2 separate regions of the Homo sapiens genome follow, and region 1 is linked to region 2. The links come from fine-mapping of genetic effects on gene expression. Tissue or cell type: whole blood. Region 2 holds a variant in brackets; the other region holds the start of a gene. All regions are shown on one strand. Distances are from middle to middle.

The links. PIP is the estimated chance that this variant, and not a neighbour inherited with it, causes the effect.
Region 1: it holds the start of MYO5A, and the variant in region 2 is the best candidate, but not a certain one, in a credible set for the expression of MYO5A in whole blood (INTERVAL, PIP 0.63).

What each region holds. Positions count from the first base shown.
Region 1 is chr15:52,526,151-52,530,542 of GRCh38, reverse strand. It overlaps MYO5A (myosin VA), which reads left to right and starts at 1,663. Exons shown (of 42, transcript NM_001382347.1): 1 at 1,663-1,763. The coding sequence starts at 1,737. RefSeq lists a silencer at 1,134-2,013.
Region 2 is chr15:52,415,611-52,420,006 of GRCh38, reverse strand. It overlaps MYO5A (myosin VA), which reads left to right. Exons shown (of 42, transcript NM_001382347.1): 5 at 3,706-3,862. Among named protein-coding and RNA genes, the nearest start is that of MYO5A, 110 kb to the left of the region's middle. The variant G/C (reference allele first, on the strand shown) is at 2,359.

The sequences.
Region 1 (4,392 bases), 110 kb before region 2:
CTCCTAAATCTCAGTCCAGTGCTCCTTCCGTTCCGCTGGTCGTCACTGCACACGTTTTCTCTTTTTATGTCTGGGTGAAGAAAGAGTGGGTCCCAGAAACATGAAAGCGATTTGGTTTTGCAATGGGAAGGAACAGAGACAAATCTGTAGGACTTTCGACTCAGTAGACATTCCCTCTAGCATTTCTGAGGGGATTGTGGGCGAAGAGGAGAGGTCTGAGTTCCACGGAGTAAGGACTGGCCCCGTTCCTTTCAGTGAATGGTCTTTCTCCAAATACACACGCACACAACACACACAACCGGGGGCCTCAGCCATGAGAGTTGTTCGTGATAGAAATGGTCTACCAGATTACCATGACAGGCACTGGGGACCAGTTGTAGTTCAAAGAAACGAGAGATGAGGGCACTACAAAGAGGCAGGGATTAAACAAACAAAAACAGCAACAACAACAACGACAACAATAAAGAATGAAGATTATTCAACCAGAAACGACAATGAGGGTGGGGAGAAGATAGAGGATGAAGACAGCGCAGGGTTGGGAGTAGAAAGACCACATTCTTGTGCTGGATGTTCAAGGATCACCGTGAGGAGAGTGAGGGCGGCTTTGCCCTTTTGATGTTGAGTTAAACTGTAATACAGATTTTCCATGTAAGTACTCCGTCATTTTCAGGTGGCAACCGGATAAACTTCAGGTGCCACCATGGAGCCGACAATCACCAGCAGCGAACAGGACGGGAAGAAGGCTGGGACAGAAGGGTAGTTGCATCTCCGCAAACGCACAGGTCTAGGAAAGAGGCACCTGGGCTGTCCCCGGGCTATCTCGTTTCAAAGTCACTTAAGTTTCTGTAGCTTAGAAGCGGCCCTTGCCCTCTGGTATCGGGAGACGACTTTGCTGCAGACATCGAGGTGCTCGGAATGACCTTGGTGATCAACCTTAACCTGAAATTCCCGGTCCTGCATTGCCCATCTCCCGGGTCACTGCTGCTGACAAGGCTCTTCTACAGTCCTGGGTTATTCTACAGTCTTTCAAGAGGGCTTCCCCTAAATCCTCTCCCTAGGAATGCTTGGAAGGACGGGAGGAGCAGCCTGGAGGCTCCCATCGTTTATTCGGACACAGTAACAGCCCGTGCCATGGCTGCGCTACCGCGGGAGCTAGGCTCCGCAGCAGAGGGCCCCGGGCTCGCTTCGGGGTGGGGGCGCCCGGGGTGTGCCGCGCCCTCGGGGCTCACGTCCCGGGCGGGTTTCCGGGCCTCGGCAGGGCGCGAGGCGGCGGCGGGGCCGGCTGGCAGGCTGATGATGATGATGCTCTGTGCTCGTAGCCGATGGGAGGCAGCGTGAGCCCGAGAGAGCCCAGAGCAGCCGCGGTGGCAGCGCTGGAGCGCAGCCTCCTCCCGCTCCCATAATGCACAGGGCGGCGGCGGTGGCGGCGGCGGCAGCGGAGGCAGCATCGCGGGCCGCCGAAGTGGCTGCGGCGGCGGCGGCGACCCCTAGGACCCCGGGCAGGTGGAGCGCTCGCGGCTGCTCGCGGCGAGCCCGGGAGTGATGGCGAGGCCCCTGCGGGCGGCCAGCGCCTGAGGCGCCCCGCCCCGCCCCGCCCCGCGCGGCCCTCCCCGCCCGGCCCTGCCCTGCCCTGCTCCCTGCCGGCGGCTGCGGGCGCTTCCTAGTCCGCTCGGGCGGCCGCCCAGGCGAGGTGCGGCCTCCGCACAGGCGGGGGGCGTAGGCGCGCGGGGCCCGCCATGGCTGCGTCGGAGCTCTACACAAAGGTAAGGCACCCCGCGGCCGGCGTCGAGGACTGGGGCTGTGCGGCCCTCGCCGCCAGCTGTCAGGCTGGGGAGGGGGCGGGAGCGCCGGGCCCAGGCGAGCCCCACCAGCGCCATCCCCTTCAGCGCCTCAGAACCCTCGGCCCTACCAGCCGGTCGCCCGCTGCGGCACCTTCCTCTTTCGGGCGAGATGGTGAAGGCGGCGGAAGGTGGCCCGCCTCGGGGGTCTCCCAGGCCCCTGCCGCGCTGCTCGAGCTGGGGGCAGAGCGGGCTTCGGAGTGGAAAGGGGGCCCATGTGGATTTAGCAGGGCGGGCGTGCCTCCCCTCCTGCTTGGCTTTGGAAAATTCCCGGCGGGTGGGAGATGCTTGCTCCAGTAGATCGGATGGGTTCTCTCGTGGGGACACGCGCTTAAAATAACGTCTTGTGTTGGTATGCAGTGCCGCTTCTACCGCCAGCTAGCCTTTCTGTGAGGTTATTTTGAATCCTGCAAACGGTGGCCGTATCACCTTTAGCTCCCCAGTTTAGCTGCGCTGGGGGTGGCGAGCCCCGGGGAAAGATGCTGCCGGATGAACGCGAGCTGATTCACCGGCTGGGAGGGTCGGTACTCATTTATCGCTGGGAGTTTGCAACCTGCGTGTAATCCCGCAGAGCCTTGTTAGGCTCCATGTCTTTACCATCCTCTGGGGCAAGCCTTTCCCTTCTGGGTTTGGTTTAAGGGAAGTGGCAGTCTTTTCTTAGACTGACATCAATATACTCAGGGTCTGGCGATCTCTGAATGACATATTATGGAGAACTGTCACTTGAGTGCTGCGCAGATTTGTGATGACCTTTGTGAATATATGTAATCATGGCATTTTATACTGTACACTCATGTGTAGGTAGATATTTTGCCAGATATTGATTACTTCTACATGCAGTTAATAGAGTTGCCTTTTCACATTAGCTTTTGCAACAGAACTTTCATTTAGGGTCCTGTAATCACTGGAATCATTGTTTCCAAATGTCACTGAAGTCCAGGGCCCAAGTTGCAGTGTGTTTTGTAGAGGAAAGAAGACTGGGCATCAAGAGACCTGGATTCAAGCCGGGACTTACTAACTGTGACCTTGGACAAGTCACTTAACATCTCTGGTTCGATTTCCTAATGAGTAAATGCAGTTAATTATACTTGCCTTGCATCCCTTACAAGCTGTTGTGAGAATCAAACTTAATAATCGTTGTGAAAGCTTTTTGTAACCTATGAATTTCTCTGCAAATATGAGATATATGATTAATTTCTTCAACCATGAAATGAGCTTGCATGAAACATTGTCTGAGACCTCTTTCTTTCTAGTTTTAGATTTAACGACTGTACAGTTGGAACTTCTCTCTCAACCTGGTAATTTCTTTAGGCATTGTAGATCTCTAACATATGAACGAATGCAATTGGAAACTGATTAAAAGTAACTTAAACACTTAATATGGTGCTTGCTATGTGCCAGGTACTGTTTTAAGCGTTTTAAAAATATGAACTCATAATCCTCATAAGGAACTTATGAGGTCGATATTAAGAAATATCAAAATCATTTTCACATGAAGAGATAATCAGTCTGTAAACATTCCTTGGTTACTTTGTGTAGCCCATCCCCTCCACTTCTACATCAAGTTTGTCCAACCCGCAGCCCATGGGCCGCATGTGGGCCCAGGACGGCTTTGAATGTGCCCCAACACAAATTCATAAACTTTCTTAAAACATGGGTTGTTGTGTTTTTTTTGCAATTTTTTTTTTAGCTCATCATTTATCATTAGTGTATTTTATGTGTGGCCAAAGAAAATTCTTCTTCCAGTGTGGCCCAGGGAAGCCAAAAGATTGGACACCCTCCGTTCTATATGGTGAGCAGTCATCTTTGAGTCACCTAATAGTAGGCTGCTTAACTAGAGACTGAGTGGATAATAAATTGTTGTTGGATTTCGAATGCTTTTTTCCCCCAGGATAATTTGGGAGAAAAAATTGAAAAGATGTTGTGATTTGTAAATGGTAAAGTTTTGGGCTTCTGTCACAGCTTTATCACAATCTATTTTAAAATTTACCTTTTAACAGCCTGAGGAACATAATGAGACCTGGTCTCTACAAAAAAATTAAAAAGTTAGGCTGGGCACGGTAGCTCACGCCTGTAATCCCAACACGTTGCCGAGGTGGGTGAATCACCTGAGGTCAGGAGTTCGAGACCATCTTGACCAACATGGCAAAACCCCGTCTCTACTAAAAATAGAAAATTAGCTGGGCGTGGTGGCGCATGCCTGTAATCCCAGCTACTCAGGAGGCTGAGGCAGGAGAATCACTTGAACCTGGAAGGCGGAGGTTGCAGTGAACCAAGATCGCGAGCCTGGGCAACAAGAGCGAAACTCTGTCTCAAAAAATAAATAAATAAATAAATAAAAATTAGCTGGGCGAGTTAGTCACGCCTGCGGTCCCAGCTACTCGAGAGCTGAGGCAGGATGATCAGCTGAGGCAGGAAGATTGCTTGAGCCTGGGAGGTTGAGGCTGCAGTGAGCCATGACTGTGCCACTGCACTCCATCCTGGGCAAAACAGCAAGACCGTGTGTTGAAAAAAAATTTTTTTTAACCTCTTTGTCATTATAAAGACAGACTGG
Region 2 (4,396 bases):
CTCACCTCTCAACGCTGTTGTATTGAGGATTCAGTTTGCAACATATGAACTTTGAGGAACACATTCAAACCATAACATTAAACTGCTAGTTTGGGACTTACTGAATATTATCTACCCCAGAAGGTTGCAGCAGGAATAAAATACAGTATATATTAGAGAACTAGAGTATGTAAAAGTTATAAACAAATATAGTTGGCTATTTCTGCTCTAGCATCTTTATATAATGCATAGGCTCTGTACTGATGGAACAGAAAACTCAGGTTGATTTGAGAGGATCTGATAGCCATGTGACAGGCTTCTCACCAGGAACTGAGTGACCTCAGCAAGTATCTCTAGGAAACACTTGTTTTCATTTCCTGAGAAGTCTGTCTGCCTCTCTAAAGCGTTCAACAGTGCCAGCAACCATTTTTATAGTAAATATTTATGCTTCAAAAATAAAATTAATATTATAATTGTAAACTCATTGTCTAGTATTAACTTTAGGGTTTAAGCATTTTCTTATTGAGACTAATTAAAAGTAGGAATCAGAGAGACACAGAGAGCAGAGCAGCTTGATTTTGATGAGTGATGATGTAGAAAAACTTAGCATCTCTCTAACAAGAGAGAGATTAAAGTCTCAGTGAAGCCACATCTTTAAGACACCACGGTAAAAACACAGTTTTGAAAGAAAGCATTTTATTACACTAACTTAATATTTTCTCTTTTTAACAAGGGATCGGATAAAGGGAGAAACAATTAGATTGGTTGCCTGCAAAAAAGTAAAGCTCTAGATTTTGTTTCACATGGCCATGTTTGTTTATAAGCTAAAAAGTTAGACCTAGGTGCAGGTGCATGTACACTTCATCAAGGTACATGACAACACTCAATGGGTGGTTATCAGAGAGTTAACATCAACATAGATGGGGATATTAAATCGTGTTATACATTACTCAGGTTTGAGGCAAGCATTGCTTAATTTCCTTGTTGATGACGTAGATGTAATTGAAAGTATGTTTATTAAGTTTACAGAGGACAAGTTGATGATCTTGGAAGATATGAATAGTGTTTGGTATGACCATGATAAACTAGAGAGATTACATATTTTAAAGGGTAAAATTCGAAAGGAAAATCTATAAAATAATACATTTCATACAAAATGAAAACTATAAGGAAAGACCCGACAGACCAAATAGATATAAGGTCACTGATGACCATAAGAGGAAAATAAAGGCTAACAGACACCCTCCCCCACCCCGGCTCTCTCTCTCTCTGTCTCTCTCTCTTTCTCTCTTTCTCTATCTCTCTCTTGCTCATCCTTGAATAATTGTTTCCTGGGGTTTCGAGTGCTTCTACATAATTTAACTCCATTTCCTTATTCTCACAGAACCTGGTTTTCTCCTAATGATCATATATATGAGTCAATTCTGGTATTACCCTCTCAATTCTGGTATTACCTTCTCTGGAAAGGCTTTCCTGACATCTCCTCCTCACATCTCCTACTGGTTCCATACCCTTCCTTTCTACTTTCATAGTATCTTAGATAGACCTTTTTTATAGCAGTTACTTCCAACTGCATTTTAATTGTGTCCTTTCTAGTCTCTCTCAATTGACTATGACCCTAGAGTCTTTTATTTCCATAAAGTGATTAGCACATTGTAGCTGCTTATTATGTGTTTGTTAAATGAACGAATGAAGCAGTATTTTTAAGAGGGCTTTTAGTTCACATTAGACCTTCTGGAAACAGGTCAGAAGAGCTCACCTCCACTCCAAAGCACCCAGTACCCAGCCTATTTAGGATTATTGTGGAGGCCCTTGAAAGGACTGGCCAAACCAGAAATCATAAATCTGTCATTACTCCATTTTCCAGCTAAGCTGAGTTATCTGCTCTTTCCAAACTTCTGATTCTGAGCCTTCATTTATGCTATCCCTTTTGCCTGGAATGTACCCTTCCTGACTTCTGTAGTCCTTGCTTGCTTTCTCTTACTCATTTTTGTAGACCTTGTTCAGCTGTCATCTCTAGGGAATCTTCCCTGATAACCTCTTCTTCCTCTTACGGCCCCATCACATGTATTACAGTCTTGAATTATTGGCCTGTCTTTCCTATTAGATGACTGTCTTAGTCCAGTTTCTGCTGCTATAACAGAATACCACAGACTGGGTGATTTATAAAGAGCAGAAGTTTATTTGACTCACTGTTCTGGAGGCTGAAAAGTCCAAGAGCACAGCGCTGGCATCTGGCAAAGGTCATTCAGTAGTAGGAGGGCACATGAGCATGTGAGGCAGAGAGGAAATCAGCTTAAACTCATCCTTTTATCAGGAGCCCACTCCCGTGATGACTAGCTCACTCCTGCATTCATGCCATTAATCCATTCCTGAGGG[G/C]AGGGGCCTCATGACCTAATCAGCTCTTAAAGGCCCCACCTCCCAATATCATCATGTTGGCAATTAAATTTCAACATGAATTTTGGAGAGAACATTCAAACCACAACATCCGTCAACCACATGAGGATACAGATCATGACTTATTTAACTTTTAGTTGAATGAAGCCAAGCCAGCAAATGGACTATTTCTTCTCTAGTGATGAGGATACTTTAATAGGAGCTAGAGTTTGTGGGAGATGCCATTTTGAGGATTGTTAGCTGGTAATTTAAAATATTTTAAATGGTTTTGTAACTTTAAACAAATTAAATTTCTTTGTAAATTTAAATTTCTTTGCTGTGGCTTCAAAGAGTATCTCCTGAAGTGGTTGACAACAGTACTGTAAGATATTGAAGTAATTCTTTAGGAATAAAATAATATGTTTGAGATTTGTACACATAAGAATTCAGAGGCCCTCTATTGCAGATTCATCCTTAGTTGTGATGCTCTCTAATTTAATGCTTGATATCTTCTTCCTCTGTGTTATTTTTTAATTTATAAGTAGATATTATTTTTAGGAAATATCATTCTTATGTTCCTTTCCACACTGTTGCATGTATGAACCAGCAAAAACTCACTGTGCCTTATCACGAAGAACACAGAAGAAATAATGTTAATCACATTGCCAAGTGGGCAGTGGAACAGGAATTAAAAGAAATTAAAGAATGTGTAAGCAGAAACTCAGTTGTATGTAAGAAAATCCATTTCCCCCTGAGAAAGAGAAAGAGCTGGAGTCCTTTAAAAATTAACTGCCTGTTTTTCTTTGGCTAGTGAGCCTTATCTCTCCTCCTTTCCCAGGCATTGTGAAGACCCTGTTTCTCTAGCTGTGCAGCTGCAAAGTCACTAGACAGATAAACCCAAGTCATAAAACATGTTTTTTCTTGAAAAGAAATGATGTAATGCATGTCTCAATTAATTGAATAACTGTCTTTGTTTCTTACTTCTGTAATATGCTTCCCCCTGCACAGATCTCCCCCACACCCCATGAAATGTTTAAAAGGTAACTTAACGCTTTGTTCAGGGCTTGGTCCTTTGGATGTTAATCTGACTGGGCTGGTGCACCTAAATAATAAATATCCTCCTCAACCCCATCGGTCTCTCTGATTCCTTAAAAAAAATATATATATATCCTGCAACATTTCTGGTGGCCAGTATAGGGATTGAACCTGAGACCTTGGTGTTATAAGCACCAGTATCGACCAAAAAATCCATTAATTAGCCCCCTACTTCCATAGAGACCATAGTTTCCCTTATCAATCCTGCTATAGGCAGCAATGGCAGTTACTTTTTAAAAAATTTTTATTTTACAGAGATGAACGAAATCAGTCCATCATCGTAAGTGGAGAGTCTGGGGCAGGAAAAACAGTCTCAGCTAAGTATGCCATGCGATACTTTGCAACTGTGAGTGGTTCTGCCAGTGAGGCCAATGTGGAGGAAAAGGTCTTGGCCTCCAACCCCATCATGGAGGTAAGACAGCGAGTCTTCGGCTTTCTTCCTATATTCTCTTGATAAGAAACATGCTCAAAAAATTGATTGATACAGCATGTCTCAGAAAGCCTGGGGTCTCCAGCCACTAAAATTAAGAAAATGCTTTTCTACATGTTTATAAAAAATCTAGGGAAAGTAAAAACTTGGTAAGGTAGACATTTTTAGTAAAGCCCAGCTATAGCGGAATCTGTTTTAGTCTATAATCCTGAATTTTTGACCTACCAGCAAAATTGTTGCCCCTAAATACCAGGCAGCAATTAAGTTTCCTTCTCCTCATTAACTGACTCATGTCTATTGTTCCTTTCCTTGTACCAGAAGTACAAGTTACTCATTTCCCCCAAGTCCTGAGTTCTTATTTATGCTCCTTCTAAAACATAAGATTTGTTATGCTCAAGTATGAATGAGTTTCCTTATTCCTTTGCCCATATTTCATTTTCTGTACTTAGTCCGACCTCAGTTGGCTTAAATTTTAATATAGCTAAAGTTTTAATTTTTTTCCAGATTTGAACTACA